4 linked regions of the Homo sapiens genome follow. The protein of the gene in region 4 purifies or fractionates together with the protein of the main gene of each other region. This does not show direct contact. Each region holds a gene or a part of one and is shown on either strand. Other genes may lie near its edges.

Region 1 (4,834 bases), on a different chromosome or scaffold from region 4:
AATACAGATGTTCTGTAACTTACAATGGGGTTACATCCCAATTAACTCAATCTAAATTGAAAATACTGTTATCTCTAACTGCATTTAATATACCTAACACACCAAACATCATAGCTTAGCCTAGCCTATCTTAAATGTGCTGGGTGGTAATTTTATAAAGGTTAGCTGCAGTGTGCACTCTGTAAACCCTATCAATGAGCTTTTCATTCTTTGTTACATTAAAACCCATTGTTTGTCTTGTATTTTGAATGGGTCTTTTAAGTACTGATTTACTGAGTTACACACATCTTACAAATAGTGACAGATTTCATTCCATAGTACCCCAAAATCACATTTGGTAAAATAACTACAGATCTCATCAGAAAAGCTTGTTAACTGTTGGGACGCTATCAAACCCAGAGTGGTAAGATACACAAGTTTTTTAAAATTCTAATTTTGGGAACAAAAACTGACAAGGTATCTTTCCTTGAAGAGACAGCCTCATTTAGTTAATATTTTTTAAATGTCATTAAAATAGCCAGGTCTGAAAAACCATAGTTGATCTGTCAGTTGTTCTTTCAAACAAACATAGTGTTCTGGAGGAAAGCAGCTAGTTCAGATCACACCTCTATGGTGCAAGTGGTTTTCCTTGAGAAAACCATTATGTTCCAGTATGCAGCAATGCAGCACAAGCACTTTATATGCACTTCCTACTTTGCCACACAAAATATTAAAAAGGCATGTATTCAGGGACCAAGATTTATTAATTTCTACTGCTTCATCAAGGATATTTATTGCAAATGCATGATGATGAAGAATAACTCCTGATACAGTCCCTGCCTTGAGTTGGTTAAGGCACCAGCAAACTAACTCATCAATGTTTTTGTACCATCAGTAGAAATAATGGCAAATAATTTCTTAGGATTATGAAAATAGTTTTGATATACTCTCATGGATGACCCGAAAGGGTCTTAAGGATTTGTGTGGGTCCTTATACAACATACTTGAGGATCACTGATTTAGACAATAACAGGAACAGACTTTTCCCATCACTGTATTTCTTAGACATTTATTTCTACTCAATATGAAAACTGAACAGTTAAGAATGTTAGCGTTACATATACAACACAACATGTAATCTAGGTCCTAGAATACATTCATGTATCAATTATCCAACAACCAAAATCCAAGAATTAAACAAATGTTTCTCAATATAAAAAACAAAGGTAGTCGGGCTCAGTGACTTACACCTACTATCACAACACTTTGGGAAGCCAAGGCAGGAGGATGGCTTGAGCCCAAGCATTCAAGATTAGCCTGGGCAATACAGGGAGATCCCATCTCTACAAAAAGTAAAAAAAAAAAAAAAAAAAAAAAATAGCCGGTTGTGGTGGCACACACCTGTAGTCTTAGCTATAGCTGTGGCGGGAGGATTGCTTGAGCCCAGGAGTTCAAGGATGCAGTGAGCTATGACTGTACCACTGTACTCTTGCCTGGGTAATAGACGGAGTCTGTCTCTTAAAGCAACAACAACAACAACAACAAAAAGCGAAAAACCAAAAAACAAGGGTCACAAAACCCAAACATTAAAGTGAATGGAGTTCATTTATCTTTTAGACCAAATTCTAGAAAGATTAATTAGCAAGTTTATCAACAAATTAAAAACAAGAAGAAAAAGCAGATTGTGTGTGGTGGCAGCAACACAGGATTGCTAAAAGGAAAGGCACTGACAGGAAGGGATATAGACAATAGTATGGTGTGACAATGGGAGCCCAAATAAAAGGGAGCGAAAAGGGGAAAAAAAGCAAGCATTAAAAAAATTCACACAAGCAAGCCAGAAGCGAGGATTCTGGCCATTGGTTGTACAGTGGGAGAAAACAATGCTATTTATTTCATCTACCTCTCATGGTCATGAGAACAACCGTAATTCATAGGAAAAGTCACGGTATCTGCTATATAAGCTAATCATGGCTTAAAAGAAAGTTTAGATAATCAGAGGACTATATCCCATTATATGGAAATTTCAAAATGGTGAATATATTGGTGGAACATTGTTTCCTCATGCCACATAAATGAGGTAATAATGTACATTTTCTTTGGTGAACTCAAAGTAGATAGATCCTACACAGAGGCTGGAGACTATATTCAACAGAATTTTCTGTGATATTGGAAATGTCCCATAGCTGCACTGTACAATATGTGACTACTGAAGACTTGCAATGTGATTAACGTGAATAAGAAACCGAATTTTTAAGTTTATGTTATTTAATTTAAAAAAAATTTTTTTTTTTTGACATGGAGTGTCACACTGTCACTCAGGCTGGAGTGCAGTGGAATGACCTCAGCTCACTACAATCTCCACCTCCCAGGTTCAAGTGATTCTCATGCCTCAGCCTCCTGAGTAGCTGGGATTATAGGTGTTTGCCACCACGCCTGATTAATTTTTGAATTTTTAGTAGAGACAGGGTTTCACCATGTTGGCCATTCTGGTCATGAACTTAAGTTTATTTAATTTTAATAGCTACATGTGGCTTATGACTACCATAGTGAACAGCACAGAGTCCTTCATAAAACTGGTCAGCAATATGCTGATTAAAAAGAATCTAAGTTCTACTAAATTGTAAGCTACGTTAAAAAAACTATTTATGGCTAGGCTGGTGGCTCAAGCCTGTAATCCTAGCACTTTGGGAGGCCAAGGCAGGTGGATTGCTTGAGCCCAGGAGTTTGAGACTAGCCCGGGAAACATGGCGAAACTCAGTCTCTATTTTAAAAAAAAGAAAAAAATAAATAACACTATTTATAAAAATGTGTAAAATTTCTCATGTTTAAGAGATCTGGCAGGTGAGACATTGCTAACTTAACATAAATCACTTGTAGGCCACTAAGTAATCTTAAAAATCTTAATTTACATTGTACTAGGACATTGGAGTGAATATTTAGGCACCACTTGTAGAAAGCTCCAATTTGCACAAAATAAATGGCTTCTGGACCATAAATCAACTGATTCATAAATTCACTTAACAATTACACTGAGCCCTGATCATGTCTATGCTTAGCTTTAGGAAAACCACAGTAAACAAACTGGATTCAATCCCCGCCCTCAGAGAGTTTATAGTCTAATAAAAGTAATCGCAGATCAAAGGAAGTTCTCAGAGGAAAATCAACAGGTGATAAGATAATTGGATAAAGGTTAATTTGGGAGAGGACGCTCAAAAAGGCCTCTCTGAGGAAATGACAAATGACTTGAGGCCCAAAGATGAGGCAGCCAGCCAAGCTACTACCTTTCCATGCAGATTAGCCAAGGCCCAGAGGCAGGAAGAAGTTTGGCTTGTTACTGGAGTCAGGCCAATGAAGACCCAGGATAGGAAAGTTGGGGAAAGGGTGCCAGATGAACTTGGAAGTTAAAATCAACCATCCAGTTTTCCTTTACTTGAGCAACACATCCAGCTTCAGATGGCGTAACACCCACTTACCAAAGAAAGGGTCCTGGCCTAGCTGCTTTCGAAGGCTTTCTACCACAGGGTGACCAAAGGTGATGTTGGGAACAAAATGCCTACAAGACAAACAAAATCTACTCTGAAAATGTTTTCAATTCAGTTTCTGTATCTCTCTCAATATGAATTCTGACACAGGTTGAGGGGATTGTCTGCAATGTTTTTCAATTTAATACTTAATCATCAGTATTAAATAATACTAAAAATAATGGGTCATTTTGGTTTTACTAGGCAATGTCTCCTTGACATTTCAACAAATCACGTCACATATATTTTCATAATGATTTGACTCCGTAATTCACGACCCATGACAAGTAGAAATGGAGAGATGATAAAATCAGAAACCCTCAGGCTTTATGACTTGCCCAAGTCACACACTAGTTAGTAAGTTCTGGACTCTAATATTGATCTCCTGAATCCTAGTCTATCTCAGGAGGCCTGTGGCTACTTCTAATCACTTCTATCACAAGGCACTAAATGACAGTTTCTTTAAACTTTCTTAAAGATGACTAATAAAGAAACATGATGTGTTTATTAGTAACGACCACCTTTCACCGAGGGTTTACTACATGCCAAGCATCGTAATTTACTTCATTTCATCTTCACGACAGCCTTACAAAGTAGATGCTATTATTATCCCCTTTGAAGAGCACAAGATAAATAAAATCCTTAAGTAACTCAGTTAATAATTTGTGGAAGTGGATTCAAATTAAGTCTACCAGCCAGGCACAGTGGCTCACGCCTGTAACCCCAATACTTTGGGAGGCTGAGGCGGGCAGATCACTTGAGGTCAGGAGTTCAAGACCAGCCTGGCCAACATAGTGAAACCCTGTCTCTACTAAAAATACAAAAATTAGCTGGGAGTGGTGGCATGCACCTGTAATCCCAGCTTCTAGGCAGGCTGAGGCAGGAGAATCGTTTGAATCTGGGAGGTGGAGGGTGCAGTGAGCCAAGATCGTGCCACTGTATTCCAGCCTGGGCGACAAAGCGAGACTTACCTCAAAAACGAAAACAAAAACAAAAACAAATCAAGTCTACCAGACCCACGGTACTTATCCTTTACCCTACTCCAGTTAATCTTTTTGTTCTATCACTAGTTCACTTAAATCTTTAACAAAACCGGGGCCGGGCATGGTGGCTCACACCTGTAATCCCAGCACTTTGGGAGAACAAGGTGGCAGATCACAAGGGCAGGTGTTCAAGACCAGCCTGGCCAACATGGTGAAACTCCGTCTCTACTAAAAATATAAAAATTAGCTGGGTGTGGTGGCGTGCGTCTATAATCCCAGATACTCAGGAGGCTGAGGCAGGAAGATCGCTTGTACCCAGGAGGTGGAGACTGTAGTGAGCTGAGATCACGC
Region 2 (4,624 bases), on a different chromosome or scaffold from region 4:
TCTGGACCATCTCTAAACAACTCAGTGATTATTTTAACAACCTGTTTTCTAGACTTATAGGATGTACCAATGCCTCTTGGCTATCTAATACATATCAGCTTAAAAGGGGTCCCACATCATTCTTCTAATGGCTGTCAATTTATAACCACTTGCACAAAAGTGGCAAAGTGAACATTTTCATCTCTTTTTTATAAGCCCTTTAACTACCAGATCTAAGAAACTCCTGGATATACCAGATATAGAACACCATTTGGTCCCACTCCTGAAATGCTGAAAAGAGAAAAGCAATTATTTTGTTAAAAATAGAAGCCTGCGGTGGCAGGTGGCGTGGTAACTATGTAAAATTTTGTGGCACCACAGTCAAATTGTATAGTGGAGTCAACCAGGGTTGAGGGGAAAACACAGAAAAGTTTTGGATACATGCCTTTCTATTATAATTTATCCCAATAAATTATGAACTCATTTGCCTTCTCCACTCCACTGTGAGCAGCTCCAGTTCTGGGGTGTCTTTTTGTATCCTCATTGCCAAGCACAGCGCCTGACACATAATGGGCACGTTAGAGTCTTTGAAATGAATTCAAAAAACAAATGTTTGAAAGCACATTTTTAAAGACAGTAGTTCTTAATTTCTTCTGATTAAAGCTAAGGACTCTATCCCTAGAAAAATGCAGGTATCCATGCACACGAACATATCTAATATAATTTCAGGGCAATCATGGGACATCTGCTTGCTCTGCCCTTTTCATAGACCCCCCAAGAAAACCAGATGAACAAATTCCGAGGTTTCAATACATAATCATAGGGAGAAGCTGAGAAGCTTTAGAAACGTTCTCCATTGCCAATTTTTTTCTTTTCTTTTTTTTTTTTTTTACAAAAAACATGTTTCTTTCATTTACCTCATGCAGAAACTCTCAGTACACTAAGAAAGGACTCTCATGTAGAAATCTGCCCCCCGCAGGTGTAGAAATAACTTATCCACATAGTTTTAGGTTTAGTTACAAATTAGGTATTTTGCAGTTACCATAGAAAAAGGCATCTTTATAACAAAAGATAATTTTAAAGAAGGTATATTTATTTAACAAACATGTATGAACTATTCATTAACAATCCAGGACTGTGGAGGACAGGGGACAGAAACAAGCCTCGAAGAGATCACAATATGGTGGAGTGCATGCATGGCACACCTGGCTATCTGAATCAGACGTTTGCCTCTGTGTGTGTGATGAAGACAGTAGTGAGTGGAATGGACAGAGAGTAACTGTAAATTCTGTAGGGAGGAAAACGAACGTTTACTCATTCTCTAACAGTCTTTTGCTTTACTATGGTCATATACAACAGTTAATCTCCCATCCTCAGTTCCCAGATACCCACCAGAAAACCGGTAATTAACCTCTGGATAAACTTTCACTGATTACAGATGAGGAGCGAGGCAACCTTAAGCCATAAACAATATTCCTACAGTATGGGGGAGCCGCAATCATCTGAATGCCAGTTTTCAGAGCCAGCCTGTGAACGTTTCATCTGAGGGATGTTTTCCCGATGATCATCTTATCATTATCGCATCTTAAAAGCTGGAGAAGCCCTAAAAGCCGGTTTGGCACAAATGTCAACTCAAGGGAGGAATGCCCTCTGTAACACTCCTGGCAGCTACAGGCTTTCCACAGCAGCGGAATGTATTTTTAACCAACAAAAAGTATTAGAAACAGCTTCCTCGTACTGAACTAAATCCTCCTCATATTTTCCAACCGTTTCTCTAATGGAATTTAATTGTTTCCATTTGGTTTCTGAAGCAATACAGAATTAGCCTATTCTCTCTCCCATTTCCTTCAAGAATTTGAAAACAATTATCATCTGTATTTCTGAATTATCTCCAGACTGAACTTCCCTAATTCTTTTTTATTTTTCTTTTGAGAAGTATTTTCAAAGTTATCACCATCTTGTTACTGCTCCTGCAAACACTGTACTACTTGGCCAAAGTCTGCTTAAAATGTGATATCTAGAAAGGAACACAATATTCCAACAGTAATTGATCTTACACTGGAGTCCGGGGGGATTATTCTTTTGATCTAGGCACATACTTCCATCAACACATTCTTAAAAAGCCTTAGTTCTCGCCTCCCGTCCCCCTCCCCCGGTGTGCTGTACCATGAGCTGATATTGGAATTTGGCCAAATAAAACTGCCAACTCTTTTTTCCTGAATACTACTATCAAGTCAGGCTTCCCCTTCTTTTACCTGGGTAATGGAATGTGTCTAATTTCATTTTGAGCTTGTCTCCACATTGAAATATTTTTAAACATTATTATTTTTTTACTTTTGAGACAAGAGTTTCACTCTGTTGCCCAGGCTGGAATGAAGCGGCACAATGTCGGCTCACTGCAACCTCCACCTCCGGGGTTCAAATGATTCTTCTGCCTCAGCCTCCTGAGTAGCTGGGAGTACAGGCATGTGCCACAACACCTGGCTAATTTTTGTATTCTTTAGTAGAGACGGGTTTCGCCATGTTGGCCAAGCTGGTCTTGAACTCCTGAACTCAGGTGATCCACCCATCTTGGCATCCCAAAGTGCTGAGATTACAGGCGTGACCCACCTTGCCCGGCCAAAATAATTTTAGATGTTAATAACATCATCATACTTAATAATTCCAGCCCTATTATCTGTACATTTGATACCTTTTTATGGGACTTTTTTTTCATTTTTAGCCAAATGACTTGAAATTACTCCCAGTTTAACGTTAATCATCATGCAACTATCTCAGACTGTTTCAATAGCTAGTAATCCACCTGGATAACTATTATCCAGTCACATTCTCCATCTTAGCCACAAAGATATCAACAGCAATGCGTGTCTTGCTGGACGCAATGAACAAACTATTTCTAGCCAGTTTCTCTCATGACAAATGCTAGAGACATTTTATCATAGGAGTACAATTGAGGTGAGCCTCTGGGGTCTATGAAATATGCAGCTAGTACAGGTTCCAGCTCATGTGAGCAGAATAAGGGAGTCTATTTCCTGTTCACCCCTTCCCCTTGTACGTACATCGTGGACTAGATGTGTTGAACCTGTATTTTCTCAGGAAAGGGAACTACAAGGTGAATTCAACCAAATCAAAACTCAGGAATCACGGTGTGGTGTGGGGGTGTGTGCATCGCTGTGTACATTACCTCAATTTTTCAAATTTTGTTTTGTTACAGACGTACAGCATTATTGTGTTTGTTAAAAAAGGCTATTTTGGTCTAATATTTACATCTTATAACCTTTACCTTTTGCCTTGATACAGCTGATACTAGATAATCACTTAGGTGGATCTGTTTCCAGTGGGAAATTTCTCTATTAAAGGTGACTCAAAAAATAAACTTTTTGGACGTTGACTGTTTTTCGAAGAACTGAGGGTATGTATGTCTTTCCTTTTCCTTTTTTTTTTATTTTATTTTAAGACAGGGTCTCTGTCACCCAGGCTGGAGTGCAGTGGCGTGATTATGGCTCATGGCAGCCTTGACCTTCTTGGGCTCAAGCAATCCTCCCACCTCAGCCTCCCAAGTAGCTGGGACTACAGGCATGTGCCACCATCCCTAGCTAATTTTTTTAGTTTTTGTAGAGACAGGGTCTCACTGTGTTGCTCAGGCTGGTCTCAAACTCTTGAGCACAAAGGATCCTCCTGCCTCAACCTTCCAAAGTGTTAGGATTACAGGTGTGAGCCACCACATTCATTTCTTTGTTGCTTTTATTCTCACCACACATTTATAAGAGAAGGCATGTTCAATTTCAGTGGGCTATCCAATTTCAGATGGGAGACATCTAACTGTAATGTGTTGATTTGAGGGAAGAAGCTGTGGTCACTGCATCTATTCAAATAAAATGGATTTTCTCTTTTAACATTCTTTGGGGGCTCAGTTAACTATGTTTAAACCCTATTTGAGGAATCAGTATTCGTTATGGACTGAATGTTTGTGCCCCATCCCCTACATTGAAGCCGTAACAGCCAATGTGATGGGGTTAGGGGGTGGGGCCTTTGTTGGGGGTGACTGGGTTTAGATAAAGTCATGAGGAAGGAACTCTCATGATGGGATTCCTGCTCTCGTAAAAAGAGACACTCTAGGGCTTGCTCCCTGCCACTGCTGCCTGCAGAAGTTTCTAAACCCTTTATGTTCCACATCTGCCTCCTGTCTCTTCCCATGGCTCTCTACAGAGCTATTTGTAACATGTCTACCTGACACTTTTGGGGATGTGGTCAGTAAAAGAGGAAGAGGGGCCTCACCACGAACCAAATTTACCAGCATGTGGATTGTGGGACTTCCCAGCTTCCAGAACTGTAAGAAATGTCTGCTTTTGAAGCCACCCAGTCTGATATTTTGTTATAGAAGCCTGAAGTATGATGGTATTTTAATGTAAATTTTAATGTAAATTTTAATCCACCTGTGTATGATAGAAAATGAATAAATGGTAAACACACACTGGCCTAGTGGGGAGGCAGAATCTCCACAGACCTATAATTCATACATAAAAGCTAAAGGTAAAATGGTAAAGTAGAAAATTGAGTCACTGCCTGCTACTTAAGGCATTTACAAGTACAATGATCATATCAGTAATTTTTCTTTGAAGAGCTATTTCCTCAATTTTGGTAT
Region 3 (5,595 bases), on a different chromosome or scaffold from region 4:
GCACGTCCAAAGAGCCAGGGGCCAGGCGCGGCGGCTCACATCTGTAATCCCAGCGCTTCGGGAGGCTGAGGCAGGAGGATTACTTGAGGCCAGGAGTTCAAGACCAGCCTGGGCAATATAGCCAGAACCCATCTCAATTTAAAAAAGAAACAATATGCTGAGTGAAAGTAGCCAGACACAGGCCAGACGCAGTGGCTCGCGCCCATAACCCCAGAACTTTGGGAGGCTGAAGAGGGCAGATGGATCACTTGAGGTCAGGAGTTACACACCAGCCTGGCCAACATGGCAAAACCCCGTCTCTAGAAAAAATATGAAAATCGGCTGGGTGTGGGGGTGCACCCCTTTAACCCCAGCTACTTGGGAGGCTGAGGCAGGAGGATCACTTGAACCTGGGAGGCGGAGGTTGCAGTGAGCTGAGATCGCACCACTGCACTCCAGCCTGGGCGACAGAGCTAGACTCTGTCTCAAATAAATAAATAAATAAATAAATAGATAAAATTAAATTAAAAATAAGAAAATTAGCCAGGCATGGTCCCAGCTACTCGGGAGGTTGAGGTGGGAGGATTGCTTGAGTCCAGGTGTTCAAGAATGCAGTGAGCTAAGACGGTGCCACTGCACTCCAGCCTGGGCGACAGAGCGAGACTCCAACTCTGGAATAAAAGCAAAGGGCCCAGGCACCCATACAAGCGCATGTCCCCACACCCTGGTGCACACCCGACCCCCATGACACTCCGGGTTTTCCATCAGCCAGGGTCTACAGAGGCCCCCACGCCCCAACACCCATGGAAGCCTGTACTAGCTTCTTCCTACTGCCGTAACAAATTGCCACAAACTCTGGGGCTTAAAACACCAGGAATTTGTTTTCTCACGGCTCTGGAGGCCGGACTCCGACATCAAGGTGTGGGCTGGGCCTTGCTGCCTAAGGAGGTTCTCGGGGAGGGTCCTTCCTGCCTCTTCCAGCCCAGGACACCCTTGGCTTGTGGCTGCACCTCTCTGATCTCTGCCTCCAAGGGCACATGGCCTTCTCCTCTGTCCTTCTGCACGTGGGCACCTACTAAGCTCCTACCATATCTACTGAACCCCAACTGAAAGGCCCTTATCTGCAGAACTCCAACCATGTGCTGGTATCTACCGAGCCCAGTTCCAGGCACCAGGGGTGCAGCAGTGAACAAAACAGAGCCCCCACCCTCTGGAGCTGACAGTCCAGTGGGGACAGAACCAAGTCAGCCACAGCTTGGGTAACTCCACACCCACCGGAGCTGGGGGCAGAGGGCCTCCTCTCTCTCCCGCCTCCTTCCTGTTCTGGCCTCTGCACTCTCTGGAGCCACCCTGGGCTTTTATTCATTTACCTGTTCCCTGTCTGTCTCTGTGACCGGAACATTGCTCCCTGCATCTGGAGGCTGAGGGGAACTGGCACAGGACTCAGTGCTGGGTACACAGCAGGTACTCAATAACTGTCAGTGCACTGAGGAGATACACAGCGACCACCGTGCCAGTGCATGCACATGCACCTGTGCTCACCCTGGGCACTGCCCACAGGCACGTCTGAGCCGGCAGGGAGTACAGAGAAGCTCCCCAGGACCAGAGGGCCCCAAATCTCCGGCGACACCAGTGATCCATGAAGCTGGTGGCCAGCAGCCGGTGGCAACGCCTCTCCCCACCCCAGAGGCTTTTCGGGCTGGCCCCAGCTTGGATGCCTGGGCTCAGCCACCAGCCAGCCTCATCCAGGACCCTGCAGCCCCGGGGGTGGGGTCTCGCCTGCCTTCCTCCCCATTCCGGGTCCTTCTCCCAGTCTCCAGGTCCCTGGCCCTCTCCTTCAAAGCTCAGCGTCAGGCTTTCCATGTGGAAGCACGCACCTTGTGCCCAGCATCTTCTGCCTGCAAGGGCAACAGAGGCACGTTCCTGGCGAGGGAGAGCGGCTGCTGCCCAAACGCCAAATGGAAGCCCCTGGTGGCTCCACGAATGCATGTCACAACCTCAGAGCAGGGGCCGAGGCTGTTGCTCAAGACCCCAGCTTCCTGCAGAGAGTGGGACTGGCAGGACAGTGTCCAGGGGCACAGGGGAGGAGCCCCGGATCTGCGCAACGGGCTGGGGCTGTGTGACCTGAGCAAGGACCCCTCCTCTTAGCCTCGGTTCTCTGGTCTGCACAGCTGCGGCCTGACAGAGGCCCCAGGTGCTGCCTGTGGCTCCTCCCAACCCCGAGACCTTCCCACCAAAAACACACTCAGGAGAACGCTTTGCCCAGAAGGTGCCTGGGCTGCAGGTGGCCGTTGAGGGCCCCCCTTCCTGAGCGTCTGGCCCCCAGCCCCGACACACAGATCTCTGTCCCAGCAAGCCTGGTCCCAGTCATTTAGCCAAAGAGCGTTTGCTGAGTGAATAAACAATGGAGCAGGTCCAGGCTCGGGCCAAGATTCAGCAACGGGCAGGGCCAGCTGCCCAGCTACACACGCCAAGACCCTCCTGGGGAGAGACAGCCTAGTCCTCAACCCCTGCCACCTCCTGCTGCTCCCAGAGATGGGGGCTGTTCTCCATCTCGGGCCCTATCACCCGGGGCCTCAGAGGCCCGGCTGGCAGCAGCACCTGGGGTCTGGGGGCTTCCTGCCCTGCACTGGCCGCTCCCCCACAGTGGCCCTGGCCACATCCCCCCAGGGGCCTGAACAGGCTGGGGGAGGGTCAGTGCCCATACGAGGGCTATCCAGGGACCCCATCTGGTGGCCAGGCCCCTGGGCAGTGAGAGCCTCGGAGGGCCCAAAGAGGCAGCTCTGCTGGCCTTTCCCAGGGACACAGAGGGGGACTGGACTGAAGCCAGGGCCCAGGAGCCGCCCTGAGTCACGTCTGACTCAGCCGGCGGGCGGGGGATGCCATGGCTCTGGCCCAGCTGCATTCGGTGTCCGGGCACACTGAGGCCACTGAGGACAGCCTCGGGGGGCTGCACGGTGGGCTGTGCCTGCCCAGTCCCACGCCTCGGCTCCCCATCCCCCAGCCGCCCGGGCCTCAGTTTCCCCGCCCGTGTCAGCGCGCAGCCGAACAGCAGAAGAATCAAAGGGCGCCAGGCAGGACTTACATGAGGTCGGGCCGGTGGCGGTGCAGGATGGCGCAGAAAGCCAGGCCGTCGCGGAACGACGTGGTCATGTTGCAGATATTCACGTCGCGGTAGCCCTCGCACTGCTGCCGGCACCACTGTTGCAGCGCCCTGATGGCCGCCATGTGGGCGGCGCGCCCGCCGCGCGGCGGAACCGCCCTCCGACACCTTCCCGCGGCTGTGCCGCGACCGCCCGGCCGGCGGGACAGACGCTGGGACCGCTACGGAACCGCCAGACCCACGGCGCCCAGCCCCAGCTGAGCCGGACTGAGGGCGACGAGTGCCGGGTCCCTAAGAGAAGCCGAGCCCGGCCCCGCCCCCGCCGGCCCCGCCTCCTTGTAGGCCCCGCCCCCAGCCGCCAAGTCCTGCCTCCGGATAGGCCCCGTCCTCACACCTCCCAGCCCCGGCATAGGCTCCCGCCCAGGCAGGCCCCACCTCCCGACAGGCCCCGCCCCCAGCCGCCGGGTCCTGCCTCCTGATAGGCCCCGTTCCCACGCCTCCTGGCCCCGGCACAGGCTCCCGCTCCAGGCAGGCCCCGACTCCGGACAGGCCCCGCCCCCAGCCTCCAGGTTTTGCCTCCCGAGAGGCCCCGCCCCACGCCGCCCGGCCCCAGTACGGGCTCGCGCCCTAGGCACGTCCCGCCTCCTGGTAAGTCCCGCCCCCACGCTGTCAGGTCCCGCCCGACAGGCCCCGCCCCACGCCGCCTGGCCCCTCCCCAGGCCCCGCCCCGCCGCTGAGGGCCGAGACCCCCAACCGGTGAAGGGGCGCGGTCTGCTTGGGGGTCCTGCCATTCTGGACCCCTGCGGAGACCTGGAATTTTCTTTTTCGCCGCCCCACCTCCCACCACCATCTCACCCCACCGCCATGGAGAAGAGGCAGGAAAGGCCGTTGACAAACGGGGACACTGAGGCTCGAACACCCTGCCCTGTCTAGGGCCTCAGCCCTCGGCAGCCCGGCCTCCCGGGGAGCAGGAGGCGCCTTGTGTTTCAGGGTTTCAAAGGACGTCCGCATCTGGTTTCTCTTTCCAGGCCGCTACATGCCAGCGGGGGTTCCAGGCAAGGCAGAGGTGAGGCCTGGGCATTGCCAGAGGAGAAACTGAGGCCAGGAAGGGGGCCGTGGAGCCGGAGTTGCACAGCTGGCCTGTGCTTTTCTTCTGGGGGCCTGTGGGCAGGATCTGTTCCTGGGGCAGGAGATTCCTCAGGCTGACTTGCAGGGTAGTTCCAATTTTCCACTTTGAGCTGTGACAGAAGAAATAAGGAAAGTCCCTCTGCTGGGGCCCTAAATTATCCCAGACTGGCCCCTGGCCCCGTTATCCTTGGGGAACCTTGTCTGTGGCCACGGGGGCTGGACGAGGGCGGAATCACTGACACCAGCCATGTGAGGGGGGCCTACCCTCCTGGCTGTGGGGCCAGGGCTTGTCTGGGCAGGGCCTGCAGGAAGGAAGGTGTTTTCCCGCAGTAGCCCCTGGCAGGGAGTCAGGGCAGCTTCTCTGTGCCCCTTGGGAGGAGGAGAAACTGAGGTCTTCCAACCCCAGCCAATGGTGCTGTTCCAGATCTTTTCTGAGGCTGGTCCCTGGTGAGACACCGTAGTGTTCATGGCCAGCTGCCTAAGTGTCAGTGAGGCCTGTGTGTAGGTGGTGAGCTCCCCGTCACCAGGGGCATGCAAGCAGCTGCTAGGCAGGGAGCCCTTGTGGCCTGGGAATGTGGCTGGCCCTAACCGCTGCTCCGCCACAGTCCCTGACCTGCGGATGTCAGGGGATATCGTGCCAGCACAGCCGGAGCCGGTCCTGGCACCGGGTTTTCTTGACTCCCAGGGCAACGGTTAGGAGAACCGGAAGAGCTGGAAAAGAAGGGAGAGATCAAGAAGCAGAAGCAGCGGGGCAGTGGGCGGGGGGAATTAGTGGGGGATGGGGGACACAGGGGTGGACAGGCGTTAGGGCCCAGCTCCCTTAAAAGGAGTGGTGTGGGAGGTGGCCTGGGTTTCACTTTTATCGTGAACTTTTACCACTGCACACTTAAAAAGCCATCTCACTGGTCACCCCGTGGCCCATCCTGCGCGGCCCCCCTCTGGCACCAGTGAGCTGGGAGGCAGCATTTGTGACGTTTGCCCACCAGCACCTCACACACCATGTCCCTCCAGGGTCCCCGAAGCCAGGAGCCAGGACACCCCCAAACAAATGGTCCTTTCTCCCCACTGCCCACGGCTGCCACCCTCCCATCCAGACGACCTGTCCCCCCGCCTCTGCCCACAGGGCTGCCTCCTGCCCCTCCAGCCACCACAGTCCACCCTCCCCAGCAGCCCGAGGGATCTTTCTAGAAGGCCTGACCAAGCCCTTCCCCTGCCGGGAGCCTCCCAGGCTGTCCTTCGAATAAAGTCCAGGTTGCTTATCAGACTTTCCGCAGGCTTATCACGCTGCATCTCCCCGGCCGCACCCTGCCACGCTGACCCCAGAGCTTTGCGCCCGCACCGGCCCCCAGCACCCGCCCCTCCTCCTCATCCTCCAAGACCCCCAC
Region 4 (4,834 bases):
GATAATAAACGTGGAATTTGAAACTCAGCCATGAACCAATGGTGACCCTGATATTTTGGTAAGATTAATTTGTAATGTGGGTAATCTACATATGACAAATTACCTATTGACTACAGCTATAATTCTTGCCTAGTATAGAGACTCCAAACACATTCAGGCATTCCGAAGCAAGTCAAGTTCATAATACTGATTTGATTTAAATGAGTAATTTATCTTTCTATAAATACATTTGGTTCTTGTTCTCAGAACTAATATTCTTTATAAGGTATTATATTTCTCTAATAGCATTAAAATTTGAGAAGTGTGTAGTACATGTAAATAGCCGATACCTCACCCAAGACTACTCACCAGTCACTGGTAAGAATGAAATGATTTTAAACATGTTATTATTACTATTTTTTTGAGACAGAGTCTCTCTCTGTCACCCAGGCTGGAGTGCAGTGGCACGATCTGGGCTCACTGCAAGCTCCGCCTCCCGGGTTCACGCCATTCTCCTGCCTCAGCCTCCTGAGTAGCTGGGATTACAGGCGCCCACCACCACGCCCGGCTAATTTTTTTGTATTTTTAGTAGAGACGGGGTTTCACCGTGTTAGTCAGGATGGTCTTGATCTCCTGACCTTGTGATCCGCCGGCCTCAGCCTCCCAAAGTGCTGGGATTACAGGCGTGAGCCACCGCGCACAGCCAAACGTTATTTTTAGTATGCTAACTAACTACTAATTTTGAGTAGTGCTTATATTAGAGCACTTTAAAAATATACATGACACCCTTTTCTTTCTATTTGCTTCACAAATAATGAACTGACTGAAAGTATGACCAAGGTATACATCTTAGAATGCAGTCTGTAAATTGGCTTACGGAAAATTCCGTATGTGTCTTATTACCACATTCTTCTAATATGCATACATTTTGTGAAGAGTACCTACTATTCAGGATATGGAAGACTTAGCACTTTACATTGTTACTAGTTACATAGAATACATTTCAAGCATATTAACACTAACAAGAAGCCCTTGAGTATTGACAAAGATTAAATTTCTCATTTTACCCAAATCAGTATTACAAATTTTCTTTTACTTGGAATGTCTGAATTAGAAAAGAAACAATTATGTGTAGCCCTGAAATTTTTAAACTTGAATTTGACAATTTCAACATTCTAGCGATTTAAACATTAACAGTTTCATCTCCTAAAATCTGTTGGAGTACAACTCCATATTTTCTGATGGTTCCATTTTACCTCCTCAGGGACAGCTCTTATATTAACAAAGCCTTTTCTGAAGACGATGAACACACGGCGAGCTCCACAACGTAGAGCAGATGTTGCACAGTCAAAGGCAGTGTCTCCAGCTCCAAGTACAATCACGACTCCCCGTATCGATGGCAATGGAGAGTGACAGGCGCACATTCCTGAATGATGAAAGGAAAACCCCATTTTCAAGTAGAGAAACCATTTCTGCATGACAGCTCAAAAGATACTTGTACTCAAAGCAGTGTAAAATTGCATCTTGCAGTTTTCCAGGATGAAGTGTCACTATCAAATTATTCTGCTTCATTGAAAGACAGTTTTATTCCCATTTTAAAAATATGCTCATATATGTAATTTCATAGTCAGTATCTTTAGTTTCTTTTTTCTTCTAGGATTCCTACAACACATTTTGAGAAGTTTAGGTCATAACAGACTGGAATCAATCAATTAAAACTCTCTTCATCAAAATTGTGCTATCTATCTTTAACTCAGCATAATTTTCCTTTTGCTAGAAGAAAAAAGTGATCCTTATGATCTGTGTTAACGGTTTGCAATATTTCATTATAATACTTTTTTATGTATTACCTTATATAATTTCTAACACATACCTCTGTTATATATTTTGTTAACTTTGAATATTAACGTGCTGAATAAGTGTCCTTTATGTAACTGAAGAATTTCTGAGAACTATTTTCTTGAAATAGTTCAAATAAATCTTTCTCCCTTTCACTGCTTTCCTCTGGTTTTGTTTGTGAAACTGGGCAGTAAAAGAAATATGACTTTCTAAGCATCCATTTCTCAAGGTCATCTCTATTAAGATTTGCTGTCCATATGAAGATCCTTGTAAAAAAAGTAAAATGCAAGTATTCCTTATGTGTTAGGTAGCAGTGTATAATAAGATTAAATAAAACTGTTTATAAGATCAATTACTATAATTTTTTAAATGGTACCAAGAATAGAATAAACCTATAATTTCAATAAGTGTAATCATTTTGCTTGGAAGATTTTGTATTTGGGACACTCTGTAATTTTCAAATACAAGCTAGGTGCACTATGACCTTCCTCAGAAAGGGTTTCAGACATACAAACATCCAGTTCTACTGAGAGGCAGAAGGTGGAGAGGGTATGCATCTTTAGCTGTAAACTTCTGAAGAATAATTTAATATAGAAAGTTTCTTACTGTTTTAAGTCCTGGGAGAAGCATAAAAGTTTGTATCATTTCTACATGTAATTAATGTAGGAATAGCTGTGGCTCAGACCTCTTTAAAAATATACATTTGAAGGATTTAGATTATCTGACTTTGGATAAAATATTACAATTTTCCCCAAAGACAATGACTCTGGTCAGGCCAAACCAAGGTACAACCTTCATTCAGGTGGTTCTTCTTGGGGTGTATAAAGTGATAGGGTGTCTATCAAAGTATTTTATTTTAACATCATAAAATTACTGTTTAAGAGAAGACAGTCAATCTTTCTGCCTGTGTAGATACAAATCATATAAGATATGTGACGATTCATGCCATTTCTTTGAAAAACATCTTCCAATGTTTGTTAAGGACTTGCTTACCTTGAAGCAATTTTTCATGATGTAGTTTAGACATATATATTACAGTGAAAATTCCTTACGATGATACTTTATTGGAAGAATGAACAAACAGATGATTCTGGCAAACTGTTATACCCGGCCTTTTTTTTTTTAATTTTACATTTGGGTCTTAGGCAAGGTTGGGTGTGAGAGCTGAACAATGTGCTGCTGAGCTTGATTTTGATATTAATTTATCATAAATAAAATAGCATACTCACTATTAAGCATAAAAGACAATATGTTATACCTGCTTTACTGCCTTTGGCTACAAGTGGCAAAAAGTCTTTGGATGTATAAAACCCCTGGTCCTGCGTCAGGCCTTGGAAGATGGCATCTTTATTGGGTTCTGGCAAACCTAAGTAATCAAATTTATAAAATATCATTAGCAGGAGGAGGGGCTTTTCCTATTAGATATTAAAACAAAAAAGAAAACTTTAATCTTTGAAATAATGTCATTCTTAGAGGAAAACATCTGTAAGCAAATCAATATAAAATGTACATAATACAGTCTAACGGATCTCAGAGTATATTATGTATATCTTTAATATATAACCAAGTACACATCGTAAATCACACATTAATGTATACCTATAAATATATGGAAACATATGTATATACACACATAAACATATATAACATTACAGGGAAAATCAGGTTATATTCTTGCCTCATATCATAAATAAGTCAGTTTCAGCTACATTAAAGTACTAAATATAAAAAAAGTTAAAAATGGGTACATATTTATCTAATTCCTGAATAAGTAAAATCATTTCTTTTTTAATGAAAGAAAAAAATTAAAGGAAAAAACAATGTATTTTGCCACAATAATTCAACCACTGCTAAATTTAAAAAATATAAATGAATTAAAACGAAAATTATTAACCAAGAAGATGTTTTAATAATTAAATGTCTTTACTGTATAAATTCTCCAAATCAGTAAGGAACATATTAGCTTTTCAATGGAAACATAAAGAATAATAAAAATTGGGAGAAGAAAAAATATAAATCACCTATAAGCACTAAAAATATTAACTCCATTAAGTCATTAAACTGCAAATTAAAAGAATAAAATTGTAACTTCTCTATAAAAAGAAAAATATTTAAGAAAATTAAACTATACACCAAGGGTAGACATGGAACTTGTCATACTCTTTCAGTGGAAATATACATTGGTGTTCAATATCTAGAAAATAGTCTTAAATCTATCTTAAGAAAATACTGACACATGCAAATAAAGGTTTAATGCACAAAAATGATTAATACAGAAAGAGGAAAATAAGATGAGAGAGTACCAGAATGTCAGGTAAATGAAGAAATTAGTTTTACCGTATAAAAGAAAAAGACAACAGAACGAATATTTGAGAAATATGGTATAAGATTGTAATCAAAATACAGTCTTAAATGAACCTGCAGGATTCAAAACTCTGTATAGTATAATTCAAATTTTGTAAAAAAATGTATTAATATAAACCATGTAATCTAAACAGAGATCATTTAGAGTGGTGGTATTAAGGATATTCCAATTTTTATTATTTCCTTATTTTCCAAATTTTCTACATTGTACATATATCAACTATAAATTAGTAAATTCTTACCAAAACTTTGAAAGGAAAATAAATGGCAGACTAAATTTTTTCCAAAGTGTAAATGAAGAAAATCTTATAGCAGTCACCCCATCCAAGGCAAGTAGAGAAATAATTCATCTCAATTCCATAAATGCAGGGGAAAACATGTAGTTTTATTTTATTACTAAGACTCATTCTACCAATGGGTCATTCTAGAGAGGCAGGAGTTTATTTTACAATGAAATGAAGGGCAATGGACATTTGCTGGTAGATACAGAGTAATAAGCATAGCCGAAGGATGACTTTTGTCATATGAGATAAGGTGGGTGCCATATCTGATCTGAAAGCTGAAGGTTTCTGTGGGTTGCCTGTAATCAGCAATAAACCACCATTGTCTCTTCAGATTAAACCAAACATTTTTCTTCCCCATCCAGCATCCC

The links. Proteins that work in one complex are often made in the same cells at the same time.
Region 1: the proteins of DPYD (region 4) and RPE fractionate together in Homo sapiens (co-fractionation; one large-scale study listed by BioGRID). This does not show direct contact.
Region 2: the proteins of DPYD (region 4) and NLN fractionate together in Homo sapiens (co-fractionation; one large-scale study listed by BioGRID). This does not show direct contact.
Region 3: the proteins of DPYD (region 4) and MICALL2 fractionate together in Homo sapiens (co-fractionation; one large-scale study listed by BioGRID). This does not show direct contact.

The regions. Positions count from the first base shown.
Region 1 is NC_000002.12:210,008,355-210,013,188, reverse strand, and holds part of RPE (ribulose-phosphate 3-epimerase), read right to left. Parts: intron 3,533-4,834; coding exon 3,453-3,532; intron 1-3,452. UniProt on the Homo sapiens protein: Catalyzes the reversible epimerization of D-ribulose 5-phosphate to D-xylulose 5-phosphate.
Region 2 is NC_000005.10:65,825,711-65,830,334, reverse strand, and holds the end of NLN (neurolysin, mitochondrial), read right to left. Parts: 3' UTR 1,052-4,624; downstream 1-1,051. UniProt on the Homo sapiens protein: Hydrolyzes oligopeptides such as neurotensin, bradykinin and dynorphin A. Acts as a regulator of cannabinoid signaling pathway by mediating degradation of hemopressin, an antagonist peptide of the cannabinoid receptor CNR1.
Region 3 is NC_000007.14:1,456,120-1,461,714, forward strand, and holds the start of MICALL2 (MICAL-like protein 2), read right to left. Parts: upstream 3,352-5,595; 5' UTR 3,208-3,351; coding exon 3,065-3,207; intron 1-3,064. UniProt on the Homo sapiens protein: Effector of small Rab GTPases which is involved in junctional complexes assembly through the regulation of cell adhesion molecules transport to the plasma membrane and actin cytoskeleton reorganization.
Region 4 is NC_000001.11:97,591,983-97,596,816, forward strand, and holds part of DPYD (dihydropyrimidine dehydrogenase [NADP(+)]), read right to left. Parts: intron 3,185-4,834; coding exon 3,077-3,184; intron 1,406-3,076; coding exon 1,236-1,405; intron 1-1,235.